4 linked regions of the Homo sapiens genome follow. The protein of the gene in region 3 purifies or fractionates together with the protein of the main gene of each other region. This does not show direct contact. Each region holds a gene or a part of one and is shown on either strand. Other genes may lie near its edges. The genes, in order: KIAA0232, HSPBAP1, FOXD4L6 and LRP1B.

Evidence for each region.
Region 1: the proteins of FOXD4L6 (region 3) and KIAA0232 purify together in Homo sapiens (affinity purification with mass spectrometry; 3 studies listed by BioGRID and IntAct, with this or other methods). This does not show direct contact.
Region 2: the proteins of FOXD4L6 (region 3) and HSPBAP1 purify together in Homo sapiens (affinity purification with mass spectrometry; 3 studies listed by BioGRID and IntAct, with this or other methods). This does not show direct contact.
Region 4: the proteins of FOXD4L6 (region 3) and LRP1B purify together in Homo sapiens (affinity purification with mass spectrometry; 3 studies listed by BioGRID and IntAct, with this or other methods). This does not show direct contact.

The regions. Positions count from the first base shown.
Region 1 is NC_000004.12:6,778,078-6,785,726, forward strand, and holds the start of KIAA0232 (uncharacterized protein KIAA0232), read left to right. Parts: upstream 1-4,649; 5' UTR 4,650-4,764; intron 4,765-5,698; exon of another isoform or gene 5,699-7,484; intron 7,485-7,649.
Region 2 is NC_000003.12:122,790,809-122,797,899, reverse strand, and holds the start of HSPBAP1 (HSPB1-associated protein 1), read left to right. Parts: upstream 1-4,068; 5' UTR 4,069-4,219; coding exon 4,220-4,283; exon of another isoform or gene 4,284-7,091. Other genes in the region: SLC49A4 (solute carrier family 49 member 4), read right to left, coding at 2,365-2,707. UniProt on the Homo sapiens protein: May play a role in cellular stress response.
Region 3 is NC_000009.12:41,125,928-41,133,125, reverse strand, and holds FOXD4L6 (forkhead box protein D4-like 6), read left to right. Parts: upstream 1-4,444; 5' UTR 4,445-4,742; coding exon 4,743-5,996; 3' UTR 5,997-6,691; downstream 6,692-7,198. Other genes in the region: ZNG1F (zinc-regulated GTPase metalloprotein activator 1F), read left to right, coding at 769-898, 1,286-1,392.
Region 4 is NC_000002.12:142,121,010-142,128,034, reverse strand, and holds part of LRP1B (low-density lipoprotein receptor-related protein 1B precursor), read left to right. Parts: intron 1-7,025. UniProt on the Homo sapiens protein: Potential cell surface proteins that bind and internalize ligands in the process of receptor-mediated endocytosis.

The sequences.
Region 1 (7,649 bases), on a different chromosome or scaffold from region 3:
CTGCAAGGTCATCTCTGAAACAAATTCACCAGGTCGGTGCACTAGGACTCTAGCTCAGGCAGCCAGGGAGAGGGTGATGCTGTAAATAGAGCGATGAGGGAAGGGGCCCCTGTGTGGAAAGGCAGTGAGTCAGCCAGGAACATGCTGGGGGCTGGGGAGGGTCCCACCAGCAAGGCGGACAAGCCCAGGAGGCGGTTCTGGGCCTTGGAGAAAAGCTGGGGTAGGGGAGAGATATTAGGTGTCCTTCCATTTTCATGTTACTTAACAGCTACTGGAGTGGAGGAGACTGCCCTAGTGGTATGCAGAATGATAAGAAAGGAGGTATAAGAAAGGAGGGATAAGAAAGGAGGGAATGGGAGGGACAGAGGAAGAGGGGGTCCTGGAGATGGGCAGTCAGAGCTAAGTAGTGGGGGCTTCAAGGAGGGATGGTCGTGGGTGCTGGTATTTATTGAGTGTTTGCTGTGTGCCGGGTACCCTCTGTGTGGATTCACTTACCCCTTCACCGCAACCCTCTGAGGCAGATACTATTATTATTATGCCCACTTTACAGATGAGGAAACTGAGAGGCTAAGTAATTTACCCACATCAGTGAGCTAATCAGCCAGTGTGCTTAATCACCGTGCTCCCCTACTTCTGGTGACATTGCTGATGACGTTGTTGATTTTCCATGGACTGGGTGGAGGGATAGAAGTGAGGAACAAATTTGGAAGCAGGAGACAACCACACCTCTGATCTGGTTTGGCCCTACAGGGATAGGCAAGCGGAACAAGGCGTTATTCCTCTGTCTTTTCCTGCACTAGGAAGCCGAAACCCTCAGAAGGTCAGGGCCTTGCTCAAGGTCAGACCATGGGGCTATGCCAGAGGCTTGAACTCTCTTTAGGCCTGGAATGATGTTACTACCCCTAAGAGAGGAGAGCCACTGAGAGGAGAGGCTGTCAGAATGCGGGTGCAGGCCTGGGGTGGTTAAGAGAGAAGGCCATGATGTGGGCCACCTTGACTGACAGCATCTGAACTGAGATGCCTAGTTAGTATCCCAAGTGAGGGTCTTGGTCCCATGGGGAGGCAATGGGGAGATTATCTGGTCAGGGTTTTATCTTGGCCTCATTCATTTAAAAGTCATCTCAGGATGGATTTTAATGATACTGTGTGGCCCAGTAGCAAGCACAGGGCTAAAATGAAATCCTGGTGCTGCCTTTTAGTAGCAGTGTGGCCTGTGCAAGCCACCTAAGTCTCCAGAGAAGCCTTGGCTTCTGTGGCTGCAAAATGGGGATCATCTCTTCCCTGCCTGGTATTGTGGGAGTTAAGGACAATGTGAGCAAAGCACTTGGCATGCACCTGGGGGTCAGTAAACAGGAGCTGGCATTGCTCGTGTCAGGTGACAGGTGAGGATTTGTATATCATTTATCAAAGTGTAGCTTCATTGAAATTTTGTTTCTAAATCTCTCTCTCTCACACACACACACACACACACAGGCACAGAACAAAGGAGATTTTTGAAATCTTCCTGCCCAAGTCCCTTGTTGTGCAGATGGGGAAACTGAGGCCCAGAGAGGGAGATTATGTACCCAAGATCACAGAGTCGAAGAGGCCTGGCCCCTGCCTGCCGTCAGTCCGTGTGCCACACGACATCACAAAGCATCCCGGACCCAGCCTCATCCCTGCTGTTCACTAAGCATACACATTACACAATCACTGCCCCAGATGGCAGCTGCTAGAATCCTCGCTAGCATCGAACATCCAAGTCAGAGGGCACTCAGAGTCGTCAGCTTCCTCCAGCATTGCCTTACCCGGCTGTAGGGGTTAAAAAGCTGTGGCAGGTGCTCCTGAGACTAGAGAAATGAAATGAATGATCTCAGACATACACAGGAGACAATGGTTTCTTCTCAGAAAATGCTGAAGGGGGAGTCTACCGCCTCCACACCAACCCTGCCTTAACGCAGGAGTCCTCTGGCCTCATTTGCATTCCCTAGGGATCTTAGCCCACAAGAGGGAGAAAGCTACTGTTCTCCTGAGTTTAAGTTGGCTGATCTCTACCCGGGAGCCTGAAGGAAGGTCGTAGGCAGCGTGGCACACTACAGGGGGTAAGGGGCTCATGCAGAAGAGCCCTGTTCCTGATTGCTCAAGGGAAGGTGGGATTGTTTTCTCCCTGATGTGCACTCTGACTACATCACAGATGATAGTTCAGTCCTGCACCTACAAACTGGCAGGCTCCGTGCTGGGCTCTGGGCATATGAAAATAAGCACCACAGGCAAAATGCCTGCTCTTGTGAGATACAGGTCTTGAGTGAGGAGGCTGAGATGAATGAGGAAACAAACATACAAACGAGATGATCTCAGATACTGATAAGAGCTGTGAATAAAGAAACAAAATATAGCAGTGGCATCATGACTGGGAAGGTTGGCTACTCCAAACTGGGCATCTAGATGTCTCTGGGCAGGTGACATCGTAGCAGGGCCTTTAACAAGAAGGAACCAGCCACGCAGAGGTCTGGGGAGGGAGTTCCTCACAGAAATCAGCAGATGCAAAGGCCCTAAGGTTGGAGTCAGCTGAGACTCCTAGGATTTTTATCAAAATAATTTGGAGGACAGGAGGCTATTTTGTTAAGAAAACAAAGTAAACAAGACACTTTCTTTCCCTAATCTGTCATCTTTCCCCACCAGCTCCAAATCCTATTAATACAAGATAATTCCTACTTAAAAACCTCTTCTTCCAAGAAGTCTTCAGGTTCTACTAGTTCATGGTAGAACTAGTATAAAAACTGGTCTGTGGCAAAGTAATAAAAAAAAAGGTCAATAAACTCTGTGTGTGTGTGTGTGTGTGTGTGTGTCACTATACAGGTGCCAACCGTGTTTCCTTTCTTCAGAACTGAGATATACTGTTATTACTTTTCAAAAAATTTTGCTGTTAATACTCTTTTGTAAAATATGATGTAGATGACAGATATGTCACCAATGTAGCAAAAATCAAAAGCTGACCATCCTTTGCAAATCCCCCATACTTTGGTCTGTGAAATCCTGGAGCCTGGAGGCACCTGTGAACTAGGCTCTGAAGCTCTGCTACTCTCCCCTCCTCTACTCCCAAGTGGCCCTGGATTTCCCATACCCTTTCCATTCTCGACACTGTTTTTAGAGTTTGAGTTCCAGGAGCACAGGGACTGTGCGTTCCCGGCACTGAGCCAGGTCCACAACAAGCACTCAGAAGAAACTGACTGAATGAACGTGTGATTTATGACGATATACATTCACCTGAGCGAATGCTCAGAGAATACAATTAGAAGCAAACTGGTTAAGGGAGACAGTAGTGTAAAGGAAACGAAACCCCATATTTCAGAGCCAGGAGCCTGGGTTCACATTCTGTCTCCTGCAAGAGGTGGTTTAGCAAGGTCAGAAGGCCCTGTCCACTCGGTAGCAGCCAGGCTTGGGTGAAATCACTTTCTTTCAGCCTCAGCTTCCTCACCAGTTAAATGCGGATGACAAAGATTTGTCCCACGATTTTTGTAAAGAACAAAAAGATATGTTCGCAGAAAAAACACTCTGTAGATAGTACGTAAGCGACAGTTCCTCGGTTTGTCCTTCCATGGATGCATGGAGCATCTAGCCAACTCAGCAGATGACCCCTCTCCAGTGTTTCAGCATCTGCTTCTCCCACAAGCCCGTGAGCTGGTGCAGGAAATTCTCCAACAGGTTCTGAACAGAAAAGCATAGTGCCTGGCACCTAGTGGGTGCTGCATAAATGAACAAATGACCCCAGGTAAGTCACTCCTCCCATTGGACCTCTTTCTTCTAAGTAATCTCCCTTCCTTTTCCAGGTCCATGATACTTATTTGCTTTTTTAGAACAGGCCTAGGAGTCACATTTAGGGAAGGTAGGTGGCTGTGAAGACACTTTGATTAAAAGGTTAATGCACATTTTTGGTTTCCACTTTCGAAGCTTCCAGAATTTATTTTTGCCTAGTTAATAAAAAAAGAGCCATGTCACATTTCTTTAGCTTGTCTTCTGGGTTCCTTAACAACAACAACAAAAAATTAAAGTCTTTATTTTAAGCCGCCTACTCCAGCCATCCCAGGACGCGGCGAGGAGGGGGCGCGGACAGGTGGCGCGCGAGCCCGGGAAGGCGGGGGCTGCACCGGGCCGCGGGCGGGGCCGTGCACGCCGAGCCCCACTTCCCCAGCGCGGGCCGGGGGCGGGGCGCGGCGGCAGAGTTCGGGGGCTTCTGCCGAGGGCAGTCCCACGTGCCCCTCCGCGGGAGACGTCTCCTCTCCGACGCCCAGCACGCTGGGGGGCTCCCGCTTCCTGCCTGCCCTCTCTACTGCTTGCCCTCTCACCTCCCAGCGGCTTCCGCCGCCCCGGCCAAGCTGCACGGCGCGTCCCGGGCCCTAGACCCCCACCCGCCAGGCACCAGCCCCGGCCTGTCCCCTCGCGCCGTCAGCCCGCGGCCCACCGCCCGCGCGCGCCCGCAGCCCAGCCGGAGGGAGGGGCAGGGGCGGGGACCGGCCGGCGCTGATGTAATCCCGGCACCCGGGCGGAAGGATATGGAGCGCGCCCCTGGTTGGCGGGGCGCTGAGGCCAGTTGCCGGGTAACGGAGCGGAGCGGCTCCCGGCGCGCCGCCTCCCGCCCTCCGCGGAGTGGCGCTGGGGCCGCCGCCGCCGCTTTACGTAAGGCGCAGGCCAGGGCCGCCCGGCGCTCGGCAGCCGCCCGCAGCCCCTCGGAGCCAGAGGAGAGGCGCCCCCGCCGGCCGCCGCGCCGCCCGGCAGCCTCGGCAGGTACTGCGGGCAGGCGGCGGGGAGGGAGGGCGCGGAGCAGCCCCTCGGCCGGGTGGGCGCGGGCCGGGGAGGCCGGACGCTCGCCGCCGTGGGGCTCCGGGGCCAGCCCGAGGGAGGCCGGGCCGCAGCCGAAGGCTTCGGGGTCAGCCCAAGGGAGACAGGGCCGCCGCCGTGGGCTCTGGGGCCAGCCTAAGGGAGGCCGAGCCGCCGCCGAGGGCTCCGGGGCCAGCCTGAGGGAGACCGGGCCGCCGCCGGGGGCTCCGGGGCCAGCCTGAGGGAGGCCGGGCCGCCGCTGATGGCTCCGGGGCCAGCCTAAGGGAGACCGGGCCGCTGTTGATGGCTCCGGGGCCAGCCGAGGGAGGCCTGACCGGCCCCGATCCTGGTGGTGCCCGGGCGTGCGGGTGAGCTGTGGGCCCTGGGACCCCCGCCCCGACCCCAGGACGCCGGGACACCAGCTTGCGGCTCTTGCGCCCGGGTGGGCTGTGGACGATGAGTCCGCACAATGGGTTGCCGTTGGCTGCCTCCTGCCTGGGGCAGGTGTCGCCGCGCCGGGGCGGCTCTTCTAGGGGAGACGAGGCGGGGGTGCTTAGACTTGATAGGACGTAGAGCCCCGAAAGTGGGCGCGGGAGGAAGGCTTCGGCCGGTGGGAGGCGCCCGGCGTCCCCGGCAGCGGGGTCAGGCCGGCAGCCTGGGCCGCTCGCTCGCGTTCCCTCCGTTCCCCTCCCCTCCAGCATTGTCCTTTTGGGGCCCCGGGAAGGGAAAACCGCCGGGCGGGGGAGGAGGGCCGCAGGCGGGCGGGGCCGGGAGGCCGGCTGAGCGACTGGCGCGCCGGCCTATGGCGCGGGGCGCGGCGCGGGGGGCGGGCCTGGCGGGCGGGGCCGGTGCGGCGCAAGGTTTGGCGAAGGTTACAGCTGGAGCTAGGAGTGACAGGCCCACAGTCATCCGTGCGCTGCGCGGCAAACCCTGTCGCGAGGGCGCCCCGAGTTGCTGCGGGGCCTGATCCGGCTCCTTTCCAACAATACGCGTCTGCAGCCGGCATTTCTAGAGCTCTCTGCTTCTTCCCGCTGGAGAAACCAGTGTGTGTCGTGTTGGAATGCTTCGTCTTGCCCTAGAATTCAGCTTGCGTCTTGTGGTGCGCAGGTGACAGGACCTGCCGAACTCTTGGTACAGACCCCTAAATCATGGCAGAACTGTCTTGATTTCTTTTTTGCCACCTTTCCGTTTTTGTCCTCTATAGGCAAGCTATAAAGATTTAACCCAGTTAAAAACAGGAGGGAGATTCAGCGGAGAGGAGGCATGCGAGATTCTTTGGAAAAAATTATATAAATGTAGTTCTTGCTAATAATTACCTGGGTTGGATACTTTGACTTACTGTTCAAGTTCCTAAGAAGGGATTTTACATTTCTGGGTCTTGTTTTAAAAACTGTTAGAAAGCTCGTGAGGGGGTAGGGACAAGCAGTTTTGGTAATAGGCGATGCTGTGGATAAAACTGTGCGGTAAAATGCCCAAGCTAGATTCTTCCTATGCAAAATAAGACCCGTTCCAGAACACTTTGACCATTTCGTGGACTTAGAATTTAAAGGCGGGTGAGGGCGGGGGGGGAGGAGGAGCGGATTCTATCACTCTGCATCCTCAAGGTCAAATATTCTTCCATCAGTTATTTTGGATTGAACCATTCTTAAATAGGTCTCAGGATCTCTATGTCGCTTCCTTATGACAGAACCTATTTCCGAGAGTGTGCCTTTGCATATCTATAGAAGCTCCTTTCACTTAATATATCTTATAACTCAGATTCAATTGCTGTACTTGCTAAATAATGCATTTTTAATCATTCAAAAAGTGGTTTACAGCTTCCTTGGGTATAATGGTTTTTATGTAAGCCCGTTACATCAGTGAAATGCCAGTTTTTAAACATTGAAGGGAAGGGAGAATATTATTCTTATTTATTTCCATAGGAAGTAGAATTCAAAGTGCAGGTGCTTTTTTGTTTGCTTTGGAGAAAAAGTATAGGTCTTTAACATGACGTTAACAGAAGTCAAATCTAAGGATAATTAGCTTGTTATGCAAGTTGCAAACATTTAAGAAGATCAGATGAATTTTTTTTTTTTTTTTTTTTGAGACGGAGTCTCGCTCTGCCGCCCAGGCTGGAGTCCGCGATCTCGGCTCACTCACTGCAACCTCCGCCCGCCGGGTACAAGCGAGTCTCCTGCCTCAACCTCCCGAGTAGCTGGGACTACAGGTGCATGCCACCACCCCCGGCTAATTTTTTGCATTTTTAGTAGAGATGGGGCTTCACCGTGTTAGCCAGGATGGTCTTTCTCTCCTGACCTCGTGATCCGCCTGCCTCAGCCTCCCAAAGTGCTGGGATTACAGGCGTGAGCCACCGCGCCTGGCTGATTAGATGGATTTTTAACACTTCCAGTGGTAATATAGGGTAATGTAGCTAGCCTACTCTGTGCTATGTTGTACGGTAGCACTCTTCAAAAGAAATTAGATTGTTCTTGTTCTTTATTTTTCATTGTGTGGAAAAGTGCTGAGCCTGCGCTTTGTCCTTGTTTTTGTAGCATTTGACTTGGCAGTTAATGGCTTGTGAGCTAATTTCCTCATCTGTAGAATGGGAAGATTGATGACACCTGTTTCACAGAATAGTTGGGATGATCACTTGAGGGAAGACGTGAAATGTCGTCAAGACTCAAACCCTTTAAAAATACTCGCCTAGTGTAAGTGTTAAAACCTCAGATTACTTGCTTTGCTTAAAGTTTTTAACTTTGTCTTCAGGCTCCTCGCCACCCCTTCCTATCCATTCTTTGCCTGGCTGCCAGAGTCATCTTTCCTGAGCTCAGATCTTGTCAGTCTCTGGCTCAGTAGGCTTCTAAGACTGCCTG
Region 2 (7,091 bases), on a different chromosome or scaffold from region 3:
AACTGATCCTCCAGCCTCAGCCTCCCCAGTAACTAAGACTACAGGCGCATGCCAACATGTCTGGCTAATTTTTGTATTTTTTGTAGATTTGGAGTTTCACCATGTTGCCCAGGCTGGTCTCTAACTCCTGGGCTCAAGTGACCCACCCGCCTCAGCCTCCCAAAGTGCTGAGATTACAAACATGAGCCACTGAGCCCAGCAGAAACCCAGAGAAAATCAATATTTAGTTTAAAAGCAAACAACAATAACCCAAAGAAAATCTCCCTTTGGTAGGAGAAGCCCTTCTTCGGCATCTAGCACACATCCTCTGCAAAAGTATTTGCTCTAGCTGGAAGTTCTACAGCAGTCAAGACACACCCATTCAGGGCTGGGTATCTTTGTTAGAAGGTTCTTCCTTGTATTGCTTTGAGTTACATTTCTTTGTAACTTGACTCAGTCTAGTTCTTCCTCCTAGAACAACACATAAGTCGAATTCCTCTTTGACTTGATCTTCACATAGTCTATATCTTGCCTCAAGTTTCTTTTTGAAGTGTGATACACACAAGTTCCCTTCATTTTACACATCATGATTTTTATACCCTTTATCATTCTTGTCGCAGAACCTTTAAAGTTCTGCAGTTTGTCAAATGGCCTTCTCAGAATCAAGCTCAGAACTAAACACTAATGTAGAGCCTATCAAACTATTTTGCTTCTTGTTTTGGACACTATGTTTCTATGCCTAAACTGTCCTTTCTTTTTTAGCAGCTACATTATATTGTTGATCATTAAGGAATTCACAATCAACTATTCCTTAGTCTTTTTCACATGGATTCCAATGAAGGAATTCCAGTGAAGGAGGAGAGAAGGAAGTATAACTACTAACATCACCCTGCTATTCTATTCTCTTAATAACCAACTAATTTTGAGTGCTAACTACATGCCAGACAATTGCAATTCTATACCTACCTACACTTGACTTTTGCTGAGGTCTGAATGTGTTCCCCTCAAATTCATATTTTGTTTATGTATTAATTTTTCTGAGACGAGTCTTGCCCTGTTGACCAGGGCAGAGTGCAGTGGTGCCATCACAGCTCACTCCAGCTTCGACCTCCTGAGCTCAAGCAATCCTCCCACCCCAGCCTCCCAACGTGCTGGGATTACTTGAGCCACTGCGCCAGGCCTCAAATTCACATTTTGAAATCTTAACCCTCAAAATGATGGAATAAGAAGGTGCAGCCTTTGGAAGGTGATTAGGTTATGAGGGTGGAACCCATGTGAATAGGATTACTGCCCGTATAAAACAGACCTCAGAGGGATTCCCTAACCCCTTCTTCCATCTTATGTTATAGTGAAGAGACCACTGTGTAGGAAGCAGGCCCTCACCCGACACCGATTCTGCCTGAGCCTTCATCTTGGACTTCCCAGCCTCCAGAACTGTGAGAAATAAATTTCTGTGTTTATGAACTACCCAGTTTATGGTATTTTGTTATAGCAGCTCCAGTGGACTAAGACAACCTTCCAAATCTGACTAAAGAACTCATTGCAACAAAACTTATAAAAGGTTGAACAGAAACTGTACAAAGTAGCTCCCAGGCATTATTCAATTAATAAATATAAAATCTTGCACAACAGCCTCTTGAGGGTAGACTGTCACTACTAATCATTTATCCATACTTATGTGGTAAGTATGCCTTGATTCTCAGCCCTATGGCTTTTTCTTCTCAGAGAATCACACTGGCAAGTGGTAAAGTGAGATGTCCAGGGTACCATTCTAAGCAAGCATCTTCACTCATCTGCAAGCTTTAATTGAAAGTCACAAATCTCAACTGAGAAAGCCATCTAGTCACATACACACATTTTAAAGCTGCCGAGCACCACCTTCCAGAAACCAAAGTGTCAGATCTGAGTTTCCCAATAGCTCTTCCTGGGCTGGAGTCATCTATTACACAAAACGAACTCATTATTTCCTTACATATGGGCACCGTCAATCTATTTTCCGACCTTTCATCCTCAACATCCCCATATCCCTTTGAAGTCAAAGCATCAGTCATTTTTGTCAGGTGTAAAACACATACACCGCACGTGCACGGGGATGCTCTGATGTTCACAATGTGTAAAAACTTGAACGTTTAGAGATCGCTTAAATCCCTGGTGTTGCATAAAGGGCCTTGATAAAAAACATAAATATTTGCAAGGTTGCCTTTCCATATTTGTCGCTTTGGGGACGGAGGGTTCCTAAGTCAGAAATGGAATGCTAGCAACACTCTATCACCTCACACAACCCCTATGCCGGGGCCAAGGGAGGCGGCTGGCAGGCCTGGAGCGCGGGCAGGCGCCTGCTCCCGGAGGAGAGACAGCGCGGGCTGGCGCTCCGCGACCCCTCACCTCTCTTGTCCAGGAGCCACATGAACGCGAAGCAGGGCAGGAAGCCGATGGGCCCCCACAGCACGAGCAGCGCGATGTCCCAGCTGGAGAAGCCGTAGGCCTGGCGCGCCGAGTTCTGGATGGGACCCCAGGTGTTCCAGACCAGGCCCTGAACGAACGCCAGCAGCGAGAAGAGCAGCAGCACCAGCCAGCGGCGCCCGTATACCCGCCCGGGACCCGGGACCGCCGCGGGCAGCGCCGCCGCCGCCGCCTCCCGGCTTCTCCAGGAGGCCCCCAGCCCAGGCCCGAGCCCGGGCCCCAGCAGCGGCTGCCTCTCCTCTTCGCTGCTCCAGCGAGAGCCCATGGCGACGCGTCGCCCGCGAAGCCACTGCCGGGCGCAGTCCGGGTCACCGCCGACTAGCCCAGCGCAGAATAGTCCTGAGCAGCAGGAGGCGGAGGCTGCTGTGGTCGCCCTCGGCCTCCGGACCGCGCCTGGTGCGCCTGCGCGGCCCGAGCCGGGCCGGCGGGGAGGCGGGGAGGCGGGGCAGGCGGCAAGGAGGCTGGGGTCCGCCCTCCCCTCCGCGGGTGGCGAGGAAACACCGGCGAGAGGAAAGGAGCCAGGTCCCAGACGGAGGGCAGGTAGCGCTGAAAAGGCAGGGACCAGCGCGGCTGAGTCGGGGAGAGGGAAACTCCCAGAGAGGCTGTATTCGAGGAGGTTGGGCAAGGAACCCTGGGGTGTTTGGAGGAAGTGTCCAAGTTAAATCTTGTGCCTAATAAACAACTCAGTGACCTGTTAAGTGACGTCAGTTAACCTGATGCTTGCTTCTATTTTGGGCTTATTCTCATTTTTGTTGAGTTAGTAACTTCAGAAATTATAGGCGAAGGATAAAGTTTAAGCGTAGTTGGTCCCAGGGGATTATCTCATAAAAATCATTTCTTACGTGCAATAAGTACTACCTATTTTTGTTACTTTTTTGTCTTACATATCCAAAGAGGAGATTCCAAACTAGCCAATTTCATTCATATATATGTAAACTTTACCCATTTCGCCTGCCAATAGGCGAGCAATAAAGGTATGTCCAGTAAAGTTGGAAGATTTTTGCCCCAAAGATCCATCTCCAGTGATTATGATTTGACCACAGGGTAAACGAGAAGAAAGGTGGTTGTTGATCTCTTCACACAGCTGTTTGTTTATTTTGGTATACAAATTCAGAAGCCTGACAGCTGTGGATTAGTGTCCTTGAAAACCTAAAGTCAAGCAATTTGGCTTGTCTGGATCGGGAAATGAGTCACAGGGAACGCAATCACAGGATTCTTTGCCCGAGGTTCGTATTTCCCGGCAGCCACTAAAATCAGAAGGAGTCAGGTTACCACCAGAAGGGCAAGAGAGGTGTAAGAGAAGCGTGAGCTAGCCTCGCATTCCAGGCTGCCAAGAGCGGCTCGCGAAAGCTCACGGCAGAGACCCATCCCACCGCCGGAGCCCCACTAAGCGGCAAACCTTCCCCTAAAACTCCAATCCTTTAGGGTGGAGAAAAGCCGAGGTGGAAAGGAAGGATCTGACTAGAAAAGGAGAAACAGAAACGAAGCTAAGACTACAATAAAGAACGCTAAGGTCCGGGTTAGGTAAAAAGCGCCACAACTCAGACCACGTGTTTGTATTTCCACACCCGGGGTATCAAAACAAAGCTGCGTGGTCCCGCCCAGCATCCGTCACGTGACCTCCACGTGAGAGCCGGCGTTTCCGTAGGAGCCGGGCGGGAGTCGCCGGGGCTCCTTCCTGTGGTGCAGCTTCGGGTCTCGGAGTTTGGCCCCTACTCTGACCCCACCCCAGCTCCGCTCCGCCTTGGGTTCCGGCAGAACCCGCCTTGCGGTAGCCATGGCAGCAGGCTCCGAGGCGACCACTCCTGTGATCGTTGCGGCTGGGGCTGGAGGGGAGGAAGGTAGGTGCCAGGCTGAGGTCCGACCCTGAGTACAAACCCAATGCCAGTTGACTCTCGTGGCACCCCTCGTGGGGCCGTTTGCCTTAGCCCCAACCCAGGTCTCTCTGGCCTTGCATTAGACTATGAAGAAAAATCTATATTTTCTAGTGAGCGTGGCATTTCTCGAATTGTGGCATCCAGATTTTTGATCGTCGTAGGGTAGCCTACGAGTGCTGTTTCACGCATGGGGTGTTATTTTTGTTTTGTTTTGTTTTATATTTGCCCATCATTAGCTAAATAGAGGTGTTTTGAACGTTTAGAGGGGATTAAAATTAAATTTGTGAAATTGAAGGCAACCTTTGAGATTAATGGAAGTTATCTGAGACTTTTGTGAACAGGGATTATGCGCTTTTATTCTATTTCAGTGAACCCTGGTTTAGCAAGTGGGGATGAGGTTTGGAGGCCCATGAGCCTGAGATCCCTGTTATTATTTATTGAATGATTGCACCGTGCAGGGCTGTGTTCTGAATACTGTCGCAGGATCCAGAGACTTTTGAATATTTATAACAATACCTTTTCCAAAGGAGCCTAGAAAGGAAAAAGAATGACTTACTATGTGGTCACCTGAACTATTCTACCAGTAGTACACTCTGTGAGGGTTGTTAGGAGGAGGGATCTCAGTGGGGAGAACATAAATGCTTCAAGGAGCGAATAGTTTGAGGTCGGCCTTTCTTTTTCTTTTCTCTCTTTTTTTTTTTTTCTTTTTTTGAGACGGAGTCTCGCTCTGTCACCAGGCTGGAGTGCAGTGGCGCGATTTTGGCTCACTGCAACCTCCACCTCCCAGGTTCAAGCAATTCTTCTGCCTCAGCGTCCCAAGCAGCTGGGACTACAAGCGTGCCACCACGCCCAGCTAATTTTTGTATTTTTAGTAGAGACGGGGTTTCACCATGTTGGCCAGGATGGTCTCGCTCTCTTGACCTTGTGATCCGCTGAGGTGGGCCTTTCTGATTGGATGAGATGGTGACAAACTCAGGGAGTGGTGCTGGGGTTCAGGAAGTCAGGGAGCAGAAAAGGATGGATGTATTTAGGGGTCAAACAGTTTGCTGAAGGGGGAGATGCCCATTCCAAGCAGAAGAAACAAATTATAGCCTCCTACTATCTGACCACTTTCTACCAGGGAGACAATTCTTGACCTTCATCTATACCTCCATTGCATTGATCTTTCCATTTTCTATCCACTGCACCCCCTTATCCAGAATGTATGTCGTTCCTTTGAAAAATTCTCTTGTCCCTTCCTGCACTTTTTTCTGACAAAACTCTTACTCTGGATGAAGTCAACCTTTTGCCCTCTTTGTACCTGCACCCGTGGGCCTGAACTTTGCTGGAAAAAGTCCTGCACAAACTGATGACCGTATAAAGTGAAAATGGCCAAACTCTTGAATATTCAGTCAGTATGGGCTTGAGATCCCTCTGATCCTCTGTTTCTCTAGTGAGCCTGCTAACGTTCTCCAATGACAAATTCCCAAACTCTATAACCTCTCTCTGCCTCTTTCTTAATTTCAGGTAATGACTTTGCAAGTCAGGTCAATTCTGCATCTAATCTGTCTACTTTTTTCCTTTCACTATCAGACCGTACTTCAAATCATCCACATTTTCTCACCTCAACTACTACTGTATCTTCCTGACTGACTTGTGTCTCTGTTTTCTATTCTGTGCCCCTCTAATCCCTTCTCCACTCTGCAGCAAAAAGTGACTCTTCCTTATGTAAAATTCTTCAGCGAATTACATTGCCCTTAGAAGTTAGAATAAAACCCAGATTCTTAACCGTGGCCTGTAATAATCCTTGGTCTGGGCTCTGCTGATGTCTTTAGCAGGATCTCTTGTCACTCACCTCCCCTTTGGCTTTTCACATAGCTGGCTTAATCTTTAGCTTTTAAAGTATGTCACCACCTGAGACCTTACCAGATCAAACTATTTAAAACAGTCACTGTGATTTCTCTTGCACCCCCCAACCCTAGATGTTCTGGAATACAGCATCCTGCTTCTGTCATTTTACTTACTACAATCTGTAATTATTTATTATTTGTTTTTTCCATTAGATCATAAGTACCTTGAGGGCAGGACCTATGTCTGTTTCATTCTCTACCATGTGCCCAGCTGCTAGTACAATGCCAGGCACATAGTTGGCACATGCCACATGTTTGTTGAGTGGATGAATAAGGGCACTCCATGCCAAGTCCAGAGGCAAAAGGAGAAAGCATGGCATGGTCCAAGAACTGAAAGAAGTTGGTGTCAGGAGTGGTAAGAAAAGAGGTATCCTGAAGGTTACCTTAGGCCTAGTTAAGGAATCTAGACATTAAGACAGTAGGAAGCCTTAAAGAGCTTTAGGTGAGGGAAATAACATGATTAGATTTGGTTGTAGGAAGATCACTTTGGCTGAAGGGTAGAAGACCGATTGGAGGGAGAAAGACTGGAGGACAAGGTACTTAATCCCTTTGAGCCTCAGTTTCCTCCTCTGTAAAATGCATGATTATTGTGAAGATTAGAGTTAATATGTGTAGATTATCTAGCATAGTATCTGGCAGGAATTGGATATTCAAGAATCGTGACCATTTTTATTATTAATAGAAAGTGCCAGCCTTAGTAACTGATGTTGAAACTGAAAGAAAAGAAATTAGAGATGTTATGTAAGAGAATGAGAAAAATAAATACATTAAATAAAGTCAAGTGAAAGGGTCAGTATGTTCAGTACAATGATGAATACAATGGGAGTCATAGAAAAGTTCATTTTTAAAATTTTTGGTTTATTTTTTATTTTTGTAGATACAG
Region 3 (7,198 bases):
TTGTTCTGTATTTAGAAACCCACTCACATTACTTGATATTTGGGTATTTAAGTCATGAAAGGTATTTCTTCTAGGAAGCAGTGATTCTAAAGTGTATGCTTAACCAGTCAGTTGAGTGTCTACTCTTGTGTGTTCACAAGTGTGCACAAAGTTTTTGGTAAATTAAGAATATTATTTCAAATAAATTAATTTCATCCCCATAGGAGCCAGTTTATCAGATAATTCGTTTCTCATTTCTGCAAATCAATACACAATGAGCTCATATTCAGATAAATTGAGCTCATATCCAGATAAATATAATAGTTTTTCTTTATTTCAACATTGTTCATTGATTGCAACCCATTTCTAAAACAAATTATTTAATATAACCAAACTCCTTTAACTTCTCAACTTTTCCCACTAAAACTGTGAAACATTATATAAAATCTTTAATCAATAGGATATGATACATATTTCATCATTTTGTTTCAGGTTTTGGTTGTGATAAATAACACTGAAAAACCATCCTAATATATGTATTAACTTTATCATTAGAAAAGGGGATTGTTCAAAAAAAAAATCAATACACAGAAACCTTTTTTGAAAATTAAAAACATTAAGAAACTTCTTGTAATTCACAAATAATTGGAATTAAGTAATTTTCTCAGCTTAAGAGTTTGTATTTTTTAAGTGAATATCAGTAATTAATCCATTAACATTGATGCTCTATTTCTGCTTTTAAGTTTGAACTGAGGCTGATTAATGTTCAGTCAATTCTCCTTTGAGCAGGGATTGGTGTCAATCAAAGACAAATCACAACAAGTGATTGTCCAGGGTGTCCATGAGCTCTGTGATCTGGAGGAGACTCCAGTGAGCTGGAAGGATGACACTGAGAGAACAAATCGATTGGTCCTCATTGGTAAGTCTCAAAGGATTCACAGTTTTGAAACAAAGTGAAAAATATATTTGAAAGGGATATCATGTGCCACTTAAACAGATTAACCATTCAGGTCCTCTTTTAAAACTAAATAAGCTTGTGGTCAATGTTTCATCTTTGTCACGTTACAATGTTCGTAAAAGCTTGTTAGGACTTTTGTTCTTCTTCAATTTTAGAAAAGTGGTTAATCCAAGGACCAATGTGACTTTGATGTACTGACCTGGAAAGTTAAAGATGGAATCACTCAATTACTATTCTTTTTGTAAATTTTTAAACACCATAAAGCATTTAATGAACTGGAATTGATAGGTGAACTGTGTCATTTTAATAAGCATAATGTAATCACGTCATATTTTGTTTTGTTTGCAGGCAGAAATTTAGATAAGGATATCCTTAAACAGCTGTTTATAGCTACTGTGACAGAAACAGAAAAGCAGTGGACAACACATTTCAAAGAAGATCAAGTTTGTACATAACACTAGAGGCATTTCTTATCAAAAGGATTGGATAATAAAAATAAGTTTCTACTGGGTATATTTCAAGCATTTATTTATTACTTTAGTTACGAATTCCAATATACTTTAAAATGGTATTTGTTTTACAGCATACATAAAATGTAGCAAATCAGTACTGTAAAACATTTAACATTCATACAATTATATACAATATCCTTTTTTTTAAAGAATGGTATTTCACAAAAATATCTTTTGAAATTGGCTTTGGAGTTTACATATACTGAACATGAAAGTTTATAATAATGATGATACAACTTTCAACATTGTCATTTTTTCTTAGAACTTCAGCTGATTGCAGAGATATAATGATTACATTGTTATTAAATTTTTTTAACACAAGTAAGTGTCACCATTTTATGACATGAAATAAAAGGTTATGACTGTTATTGATGTTGATGTTGACGACCTGATCACCTGGCTGAAGGAGTGTTTGTCAGGTTTCTGCATTGTAAAGTTACTCTTCTCCCCCATTTCATACTGTGCTCTTTGGAAGGAAATCACTATGCACAGCCCACACTAAAGGAATGGGGAGTTGTAGTGTACTTTCTTGGGAGTGGTCTACATAATTAATTGAAATTCTTCTGCAAGGGACAGTTGTCCCTTTCGCTTTATTAGTTCGATCATTTATGTTTATCAGTGTGGACACATGAATATTTTATACTTTGGGTTACAATTTAATACTACTTTATTTTGTTGCTCAAATTATCCCAGCTTTGACCATTGGGAACTCTTTCCGTTATCTCCTGTTCCCCCCTTTGACATACCCCCATCAGTGTGGGTTTTGTGTTTTGTTTTTGAGCGCCTCCTTATTTTTCTCCTGTATTTTTAAATAACCCCAATCCCTATTGAAGCTGGCTCTAGGAAAACTAATACTCCCTTTCCCAGGTCATCCGATTCCTATGCTGATGGAGGAAATTTGCCTCACATGCTGGGGGGCGCTGGGGAGGAGGCGTCTGGGATTATGTGGTTGAATAAGACACCTGGCCTGGCCCTCCTGGAGCTTAGTTTAGTAGGTCACACAAGCAGTCATTGGTAAATTTGGGATTCAAACAAATCTGTTAGGCTCAAACCTGTCTGTTATTTGTCCTCCAAGCTTCATATAAACTGAGGAGCCTTAAAGGGTAAAAACTTCAGGAGCAGCAAAGTTTCAAAAAAAGATCAGCAAGAAAGCTCTTTTCCAGATTTTATCCTGAAGGCACTAGCTACTTTAAGCTATTTTTTATTATATTTTGCCCTTGCAGTTGGCGTTTGATTTCTCACTGAACATTCATTGTCATAATTATAGACACTATGTGACTATCAAGGGCATAATATTCTTTCATGCTGCATTTTTATTAGATGGCACCTCAAAGTTTTCCCAAGTAGGTGGGTTTTAAATTATGAATATATACCGTGGCATAGTATCTTACTTAGTATTTTAATAAGATTCTTATTTATATAACAAATTTTTTTTATTCCTCTGTAGTGCTACTTTAGTCTCTGAGCTAATTTTCATGAAGCCAATCTAAAAATCGTGTTACTTCTAAGGATGTGGAGGGAGTGAGATGAACAGTTGTGCTGTCATATTGCCCCTCCCCAGTGCAGATAGTGAATGAGGACCCACTGATTTAAAGGCAACACTGCAGCCCCTTCTTGCCTCATTGAAGTCCCAAGTTTTATTACAGTAAAAGCACTTAATGTTGACATTTCTGAAAGAATGAAGAGGCTGGGCATGGCGGCTCACGCCGGTAATCCCAGCACTTTAGGAGGCTGAGGCAAGCGGATCATGAGGTCAGGACATCGAGACCATCCTGGCTAACACGGTGAAACCCCGTCTCTACTAAAAATATTAGCCAGGCGTGGTGGCGAGCGCCTGTAGTCCCATCTACTTGGGAGGCTGAGGCAGGAGAATGGCGTGAACCCAGGAGGCGGAGCTTGCAGTGAGCTGAGATCGCCCCACTGCACTCCAGCCTGGGCGACAGAGCGACTCCGTCTCAAAAAAAAAAAAAGAAAAAAAAAAAAAAGAATGAAGAGCCAGAGCCAGGCATAGTGGCACGCCTGTAGTCCCACCTACTCAGGAGGCTGAGGCGGGAGGATCACTTGAGCCCAGGAATTCAAAGCCAGCCTGCGCAACATAGACCCTGTCTCTAAAAATGAATTGGTTATAAAGGATGAAGAAAGGAAGGAGGAAAGGGAGAGAGAGAAGCCCTTATAGAGTGGGTGCATTTCTTGTATGTGGGGCCACTTTGTAAGAACAGGATTTTTCAAACTGGGCCCATACTGGTATGTGTGAAATCAATTTAGTTGGTTATGGCCATTTTTTTTTAAAAGGAAATATCAGTGATCACTATAGTGTAAGTATATTGTTTCGTGAAACCCATCTTAGTTATGTATTATGTCTGTATGTGTGAGATTGTGATATAAAATGTATTTCTGTGGTTAAATATTCAAAGAAATTGGAGAACCATTGCTACAAGGGGACAGAGGACTCCGTGTGAGCTCTCCTGCCTTCCCTGAGTAAACTTACACAATTTAGTGCTGGGACATTTGAGCCTTTTCTGAAAATTTGAGTCAGGGAGAGCATCTTGAGGAGGTGGGAAGGAAGGTAGAAGGAGCAAAGCAACACCCCCCTGAAGCCTGGGAATATTGTCAGAACCTTAAATATAATTCAGCTCACCATTCTGGGTAAGGGCAGACTCTACCAATGAAAATGGGTGATTACCAGCTGTGAAACACAAAAACATACTTTTACGGTTACACATTCCTTTACAAACAACCGTGTACATTTCAGCCTCCTGCCCCACCATTTCTTTTCTCCAGGCGGGAAGGCTGCATGTTGAGGTGGTCATAGAATGTTGAGTATCATACTTTCCTACCTCGCTTTTATTTGCGCGGGTTTAAATGCGCCTTAACAGAACCCGTGCAAAGGCTTGCCAACTGTCTGGCTGCACCGGATGAGTAGAGCATCTTCCTTGGTGGCAGGTGGGTGCGAGGAGGAGGGGGCTGGGCTTTTCTCCGGACGGGTGTTTGCCCAGAAGACCATCATCCCTGGACTACGTTAGGAGGAAGTGGCACCGCTCCGAGGTAGGGGAAGAAGGGTTATAAAGGGGGGAGTCCACCACACATGGTCTTGAAGAAGCTTTTATAAAAGGCAAAGGCATCTTTGCCGGACGTTGTTGCAAAGGAGTAGAAACAAGCAGACGAAAACATCCCAAAGGGTAACCACTAGCGTTCCTGCTTCTTGCAACATTCATCCCAGGCTTCCAGCTCAGCCCGCCCCAGGCTAGGTGATCGGTCGCCACATCCCCTGCGACTGAAGCACCTGCTCCTCCATGAACCTGCCAAGAGCTGAGCGCCTTCGCTCCACACCGCAGCGCAGCCTCCGGGACTCCGATGGGGAAGACGGTAAAATCGATGTCCTGGGAGAGGAGGAAGATGAAGACGAGGTGGAAGACGAGGAGGAGGCGGCGAGCCAGCAGTTCCTAGAGCAGTCGCTCCAGCCGGGGCTGCAGGTGGCCCGGTGGGGCGGGGTTGCGCTTCCCCGAGAGCACATCGAGGGCGGCGGCGGCCCGAGCGACCCCTCAGAGTTTGGCACCAAGTTCAGGGCACCGCCAAGGTCTGCGGCGGCCTCTGAAGATGCCCGGCAGCCGGCAAAGCCCCCCTACTCGTACATCGCGCTCATCACCATGGCCATCCTGCAAAACCCGCACAAGCGCCTCACGCTCAGCGGCATCTGCGCCTTCATTAGTGGCCGCTTCCCCTACTACCGCCGCAAGTTCCCCGCCTGGCAGAACAGCATCCGCCACAACCTCTCGCTGAACGACTGCTTCGTTAAGATCCCCCGCGAGCCGGGCCACCCAGGCAAGGGCAACTACTGGAGCCTGGACCCCGCCTCCCAAGACATGTTCGACAATGGCAGCTTTCTCCGGCGTAGGAAGCGTTTCAAGCGCCACCAACTGACCCCGGGAGCCCACCTGCCCCACCCCTTCCCTCTACCTGCTGCACACGCCGCCCTGCACAACCCCCACCCAGGCCCTCTGCTTGGGGCCCCTGCCCCGCCGCAGCCAGTCCCGGGGGCCTACCCCAACACCGCCCCCGGGAGACGCCCTTACGCTCTGCTGCACCCGCATCCTCTTCGCTACCTACTGCTCTCGGCCCCCGTCTATGCCGGGGCACCGAAGAAAGCAGAAGGCGCGGCCCTGGCGACCCCGGCACCCTTCCCGTGCTGCAGCCCTCACTTGGTCCTCAGCCTTGGGAGGAGGGCAAGGGTCTGGCGTCGCCACCGGGAGGCGGATGCATCTCTTTCAGCATTGAGAGTATTATGCAAGGGGTCAGGGGAGCGGGTACAGGGGCTGCGCAGAGTTTGTCCCCGACCGCGTGGAGCTACTGCCACCTGCTCCAGCGACCATCAAGCCTGTTGCATCCCCAGACCGCTGCCCCTTTGCTGCAAGTGTCCGCCGCCGCCGCTGCTCGGACAATTTTGCAGCAATAGCAGCAGCATCAGGAGGAGGACTGCGCCAACGGCTGCGCTCCCACCAAGGGCGCGGTGCTGGGCGGGCACCTGTCGGCCTCGTCGGCCCTGCTGAGGTATCAGGCAGTGGCAGAGGGCTCTAGGCTGACATCGCTGGCTGCCCCTTTGGGCGGAGAGGGGACCTCACCAGTTTTTTTAGTATCGCCCACGCCCAGTTCCCTGGCCAACTCCGCAGGGCCCTCCTAGAGCCAGGTGGGAGTGGGGAGCGACCCGCAGCTGCTCACTTCACCTTGCGCGGCCCATTCAGGGCGTGTGCATCTGAATCCCGCTGGAGAGCAAACACGAACTTCTGTTCGCTGCAAAATGGTTAGAAAGAAACAGCTGGATTACGTTCCTCTAAAAACCACCTGAACGTAACCTTCGCAGGGCGTCAAGTCATCTTTTCTTGCCTTCGGTTGTGGCTTCTATGGCTGTCCCGATTTGCGCATTTCCTGGGGTACTATGAACGTGAGTGGGGTATTTTGTTCTGGCATTAAAAGAAAAACAAGCAAGCAAACAAAAACACAGCCTCCGATGCCAAACATGTTCCCCCTTCTTCACTTCCTTGGAGCTGGAAGTATTATTCCTAAGTCTAGTGCAAAATGCTTCTACTCTCTGTGTCTTCCTGATAGGGATGTTTAATGTAAGTAGGATATTAATTTCAGAACATTGATTTCTTATCTGTGTGTCTGACGTGCCATCTTTAATGTTAAAATTAAGGTGTTAAAATTAAGCCTAGTTATATAGACGAAATAAAATGCTAAGTCACTACACTACATCGTTTATTTTCTATTACATCTCATTCTTCCCTTTCTAAATGGAACTTTTTAAAACCTACGTTACTTTCCCTCAAACAATTTATTTTCACAATTCATATTTATTATAGATAGCAGAAGTAATCCATTTTAATATGGCCTTTAAAAATTCCAAATATTTGAGGTTGAAAATGTCCTGGCTTTTAAAATAGGAAATTTACTATTTATGAGACTTCTAAAAGAAAAGAATAGGAGGGCATGTAAATATATTCTCCATTTATTTTTCATCACCCCTCAACAAGCTGGAAAACCATTTGAGATCAATTTGGAATGTAGTGGCCAACATGTACTCAGAGAAAATAAAAGGCTATAAATTATATATATATATATATATTTTAAGCACTAGAATTTTCAAAACTTATTTCTTAAAAAAAAAACAACTCTGAAAAGACTTTGCAACTAGAAAGGTTTAAGTGTTACTCGGCGTCAGGGGACGGAGTGGGGGGAAACCAGACAAGAACGC
Region 4 (7,025 bases), on a different chromosome or scaffold from region 3:
TTCTATCACATCTTAAAAAGGAAACATCTTTGTAACTCTTAACAGCCAAAATTGGAAGATAAATCAGATTCACTTAGAATCAACTAATTTGTCATATAACAATGTCATATCATATCAAAGTATTGCTTGATAAGGATTAAAACTTAAAAGGAAGTATATCTTAAAGTGTCAAATTTTCTGAAAAGGGATTGAGAGGCCTAATGCTAGTCTGTGTTAAATTCTCGAGTATGATACAATGTGGAGACACATTTCCAAATAATTAAAGTTCATGCTGTTATAGTCATTTTAATGTATCTGTATAGAAAACCATCAAACAATGGCAATTAAATGTATATCAAAATTTTAATCTCCCCTCAAAGAAGAATGAACTGCGATTTATGTCTCTTCATATGCCACAAATAACATTAAAGTTTTGTTTTGAAGAGGTTGCTAATCTTTGAATTTGTTCTCTTTCTCTCTTCTCAAGCTCAAATTTAAACTGAGTGAGAGAGAAAAGAGAAAATGGAAAAGGTAAAGAAAGAATTTAAATGTGCTAAAACAATAAGAAAGAATGTGAATTGCAGAAAACAGAATTCAGGAGGAAAAATGGAGTTAAGAGAAAGCTGAAGATAAATTTAGGAAAAAGATGAATGGATGGATGGATGGATGGATGGATGGATGGATGGATTCTGCCATACATCAGAATCTGAATCAGTATTTCTTGAATAGGTTAAAATATCTTTAGACAAAATAATTTCTTAAAATGTTTTTATCTCATTATTAAAAACATTATATGAAAATATTTACAGTATAAAAATAATTTAAGGAAAGTGCCACCAGTGTGAATCTGAATATAATTAGACCTCTAAGAATGGAGAGAGACATGAGAATATTGCAGAAAAATTAAATATTAACTGTGCTAGAATTACAAATATGGAAGTGATTTTTTAAAAATGTAAGTGAAGGTAAAGGAAATTTTCTTAGAAAGGGTGCTAGATGAGTGATATGGTTAATGTATTCTTAGGACTTAGATGACACTTTCTAAATGCTGCTTGTTTTTCAAGGTGGAGGTATGCAGAAATACTTAGTTTGCAAATCTATTGGATCCAGGACATTAGTTTCTTGCCAGTTACCTTGTCAATTTCTTTTCTCAGCCCAGGGGATACCATAAAAATCAGCTCCATTTAAAGTCACCTGAACTGAACAGGACTTGGTCTTCTACAAGGATTATGATGTTGAGGGAACTTTATGTCTTTTCTCCATTCTATATATGGATCCAGTTTTTTATGTTTCTGCCATTAATTTTTGTATCTTAATGTGAAATGTGCAACTCTCCCTCCCTTTCCTTCAGCATTTTCCTGGTTATAGGAATTCTGTGTAGTAAAAAGTACCAATCAAACATACTGATAGATTTCTCTATCTTCTGTGGCTGTCTGTCAAAACAATTCTTGTACAAAGGAAACACTTGTCTTCATTCTAGATAGATGCATTCAAAGAAAGTAGAATTAATCCTAAAAGTTAAACATGCCTGTGCCAACATGATATCATTCGTCAAACTAAGTTAGTAGTAAGTGGAACCCAACTATACAATTGCCCCCAACCCCGTTTTTAATCTCTCTCTGTGTGTGTTTATGTGTGTCTGTATATCTGCTTTAAAATGGCTTTCCTTGGCACAAACGCCATTAAAAATACCACTCTGGCTTGAAAATTGGTGATGGTTTTTATGAATGAAACTTTTGCTTTTGAAAACTCCAGATAAACATGTCTATTTATCTGGACAAAAAAAAAAGTGAAATGAAAAAAATTTTAAGTTATTTTTTGACTCATAGCATATAATATTCTAATACATTTCGATATAACAAGTATTTTGTTTTAACAGAATCTGACTGTGTGGCAGAAACACGTGTCAAAATTATCTGCTTTTGAAATGAATATAATTATGGTATACCCAATGCTTATAATTTGAAGCAATACATTTAGTAGCAGAATGCTAAAGAAAATAAAGCCAAAGACTGAGTTCCATTATGAATTAATCAGAATATATGCTCAGCCAAACTCCTATGAGAAAATATCTATGTCTACCTTAGATAGTTTTAAAACTTTTCTTAAATTTCTTCAAGAAACCTGGCTTCCCCCATATAATCCAAGAATAATGACCAAAACTATCTTGATGCATAGAAAGGTCAAATAAGAAGGTTTTTCTTTTGGTTTTGGCAGAGGAGGGGGGAGAGTAGGGAAAATTAGCTAATCAAACAGAAAAATGTCAAGGGATGCTTTTTATTTTCTTCTGTGGAGTTGCTATACATTTTCACATGGATAGCTATTCCCAAATTTAACCTGTGTCACAAACCATTGTCTAGAGACATAGAAATGAAATTGCAACAGAGCAATCACAAATTGTATAGTCTATAGGCCTTGGGAACATTCTCCAGTTATTTTATTTTGGATGGAGATTTTTAAAACTTATTAGTTTTTTGGGATAAAATATTATTTAAACAGTAAATAAGACAAAAAATGAAAATATCTCTAAAAATAATTTGAGTTTTTAAAAGTTGGTTTTTGGACTAATTTCCATATGTGAGTTCCACTGGCACAGAATGAGTGTCTTTACCTCACTCACTCAATTTTGAAAAGTATTATACTTGCAATAGTATTGAATCTCTGTTCTGGCTCTTCAGTCCTCTCTCATTTGAATAACATGTCAATCTCACCAAGTACATATGAACCCTCTATTTTAGAGAAAGGAGAATGAAGGATTCAGGAGATTCTGCCATTCAGCACAACAAGTAAGCTTACATCTTCCAAATGTATATGCTGTTTTTTTTCTGTTTGTCTTCTATAATCTGCCCTCACAATTTTAAATCTATATTTTCCTCTTCATAAATGATCAGATGGCCTCCCTTTTTCCCCTGGCATAATTACAAGGCCAAGTTAGAAAGTATGTATTATGTATTGCTCTGTTCTAAATTGAGTGATATTAAAATGTAGAGTCAGTCTCACTCTCTCCATCTCTCTTTCTCTCCATCCTTTCTATTTAGGCTATCTCTATACAAGCCCACATATTTTGACTGAGCTCCCTGACTAAACCAATTGATGAAACTGACTAGTAACTAAATGGAAATCAAAACTATTAAATAATAGCCATACATCCTGTAAAAAAAAAAAGTAAGACTGGTCTTGCAGGAAAAGCCTAAATTGAGATTCTATGAAGAAACAATAACAACAACATATTTCCCTGAAAGAATTATGCAACATATTTCTAGTTTGCAGAGCAAATCATATGTGCTTTTGCTGTTGTGTCTCTCATACTAGGCAAATGAAATATTTTTGGTAGTAACTACATATTTATATAATGGGGTATTATACAAGTTTAAAACACTATTAGAAAATAAATAAGTATTCTGAATTCATTTGTACTCAAAGAGAATTTACTATATTGAAAGTGGAAATTTATTATTTTTCTTTTTGTCTTTACTTTTTAACTGAATTTGTATTTCTCCATTTTGTGAAACATTAAAAAAAACTTAAATATATTCCAAAATGTGATTTCAAAGATTTTCTCTCAATAAAGAATATATATAGTGGAAATCATTCATAAATTGGACAACAGGATTAAATGCTCTTTTAAATATGACTATAATAATTTTCATATGCAGTCACATTAACTTAGTTTTAGTCTACAATTAGGTACCCAATTATGATTTTTAAAAATGCAATGGCATGAATAAATAAATGAGTATACCCATTTGTTGATCTTATTCCCTATTACTTCAAATTTGTAAGTATCCTTAGTGGAAAAGAGTAATGTTCATTTTGGAAATAATCATGTCTCAACATGATTGGGGTCTACTCAAGGGGGAGGGTGGGAGGAAGAAGAGGAGCAGAAAGGATAACTATTGGGCACTGGGCTTAACACCTGGGTGGTAAGATAATATGATCAACAAACCCTTGTTACACATGTTTACCTATGTAACAAACCTTCACATGTACCCCCAAATCTAAAATTAAAATTAAAAAAAACATGTTTTTCTGTTGTTCAATAACTCTACTCATATTTGTTTAATAATGATGTATTGTCTACATTTGGGATTTCTTCTTAAATATTGCAGAATAGTTGTAAATACGTAACGCTTTTCAAAGGTGTCTTTACCTTTAGAAAAGAAAGAAAATTAATTTTGATTAATACATTTGTACCACAGATCCATTTGTTTAATCTTATTTTTCTCAAATATAAGCTCGTATATAAAAGTTTCTCAGATATAAGCTTGTGTATTTAAAAGTTTCCATTTAAACATGAATAATATTATAACTATATCCTTTACAGAAGTTGAGAAAGTACCTTTTCATATACAATTTCTTCCAACTTTGTTAAGAGAAAAATAACCAAAAAAAAAAAAAAACTTCTTGAAGAAGATAGATCATGTTGCCTTGCTAAGATACCGACATTACATTTCATCTCACAATACATTCTTATTAACAGTCAGACATCTCTTCCTGAGTTGCATACACCTCATTGTCCTGACTGGCTTAGCCTTCAGACCAAAGACAGGTATTGTTGAAACATGACCTCATTTTAGTCAAAAGAATATGTTTCTTCTTTAGGTAAGATCAAGGTACCACCTATCGTCTCTTGTTTTATTCTTGCAATCAATAGGACATCCCTTCCTAACTTTTCCACATTGCATTGACATCCTTCAAGATTTCCAAGACTGCTTAACTTTAGAAATACGAATATATAATTCCTTAAGAATTTTTCTACCGCTGAGTTTTTCTTTAATGACGATTTGTCATCTTAGCCCTTTCTTCTTAAAATGAGAAAAGATAACTAACAATGAGTTTTGGGGAGAAATGAAACTTAGTTATGGTTGCTTTGTGTGTTCCTAGCATATCTTAAGATATTTGTGAGAAAGAAAAGCTGTAGGTGTAATGCTGATAACCGAAATGTGTTTAGAATCATCTGTTTTCTTTTGAAACTAGGATGTGTAAGGAAAGGAAGAAAAACAATGCCAAGAAAGAGAACTTTGATAGTCAGAATTTATTGAAGCTTCTGTCCACTACTGCTCAGATCAAGTAGCTGAGCTAATTAGAACCTTAAACTTTTGCTAAAATAGATATTATAGAGATTTAAAAATGATTCAGTTTTTAGATTATCTAAGACATTTTGTGCATTTCCAAAGCTTTTAATGGTATATTTTTATTGGGACAAAAATGTTAGAATAGCAAGTGTGCTTTATTGAAATATTCCACTTTATCCAACTCTATTAACTTTTAAGGCATTTTTTTCATGACTAAGATCTGGAAGTACAGTGATAATGACACCACCTCGTGAGTGAGATTCTTGCCTCATCAGGTGAAAGCACTACAGATTGTGCCCACTGGGCATCCATATTTTTGAGATTTTCATTAAGCATAATAACTACATCAGATTTGTAGATGGAATTACTAACTCAGAATTCAGGCACTCTTGCTGAGCGCCCTTGTATTGATGTCATTTCTAACACAAAGACTAGCAGTTCAGGAGCACTATATTGATGTCCTGTAATACAACAGCACACTAATCTTATTTGCAAGAAAATTTGATGACTATCCAACATGATCAACATTTAGAATATCTAAATCTAAATGTTGAATTTAGATATACTAAATATATCAGATATTCAGAACTTAAACCTTCTTCTTTGTCCGTTGTTGTATTACACTCAATTCTACAGTTCCTTCTCCTAGCACGTTTTCTTCCTATTTTCACTTGCTAGTGATCTTGTCAAATATTTAGAAATTAATCTTGACAGTGAAAGAACCAACATCTTAGCACATTTTGACTTCCTTTGCTATTCTCATTGCTAGGAGAACATAAAGTAATGAAGGGCATGAGGGTTTTACCTTGTGTGTATTTTCATCTGGGTGTCTATGAAAACACCACCAGAGTTTTACAGAAAATTGCTCCGACCCATTCTGAGAAGATAAACATAGCTATGACCCTAACGTTCTGTGAGTGCACAGAGTGTAATGTCTGTGAAAACACATCGTATCATGTATTGCATTACATAAATACCTATTATTTTATTAATTATATTAATTGCTTAATATGAGTTACTAATAGCAAGAAGCTCTTTACATTTTCAGCATACCTTCGCTTTTCATTCAAATTTTTTTTTTCTTGCTGAATCACATGATCCTTGAAGCAACTCATATAGTTGGTGATCACTCATGTGTTTATTCACTCATTTGACAAAGATGAGCAAATAAGTGGTAATCACTATTTTACGTGGTTGGAATGAAGCAAGTGAACAAGGTAGACAATGTAACTGGGCTGATAGGGCTTTAGTGCAAGAGGAGACAGAAACAGCAAACAAATAAATAAATAACATCCTTGCTAAAAAGAAAGAAAAATAATGTAATGTGACTGAGGACAATGCAATTGGGAGTCGTAGTTATAATCGCAGAAGGCCTTGTTGAGTAAGTGACATATTTGGTAAAACTAAGTGACGAGAGGGGACAAGCTCTGAGTCATCTAGAGGGAGGAATTTTCTATGCAACCCTTGAGAGGAAGTTGTGATTTTGGTATTTTAAAGAAAGCAGGTCACTTTGTCTGAAATAAACTGTGTGTGTTTGGGAGAGAACAGAAGTAGAGAAAGCCATATTTACAGTGAAGTCAGATTAGGTCAGGTAGGGTCATGCAGATCAAATTGAGGCATTTGGGTTTGGTTCTGATTTTGAGCAGCTACTGGCTGTCTAATCAGAGGTGAAAATGATGCAACTTACTTTTTAAAGAGATCATGCTTGGTCTGAAAAGAAGGACAAGAAGGGAAATGATGAATCCAGTTCAGGGATTATCAAATTCATCCTGGAAAAGATGTTGATGGCTTGAATGAGGGAGTAGTAGTGGCAATAACGACAAGCTACAACAGAGATTTGCATTTTTAGTTTAGAAAGATTTTCTATAAGAACGAATGCAGCACCATTCTATGTATTAGGGAGGATAGGCATGAAATAAAGCCGCAAAAGATAATCTTTGGGGGAAAGGGTTAATATTCTAATCAGATAAT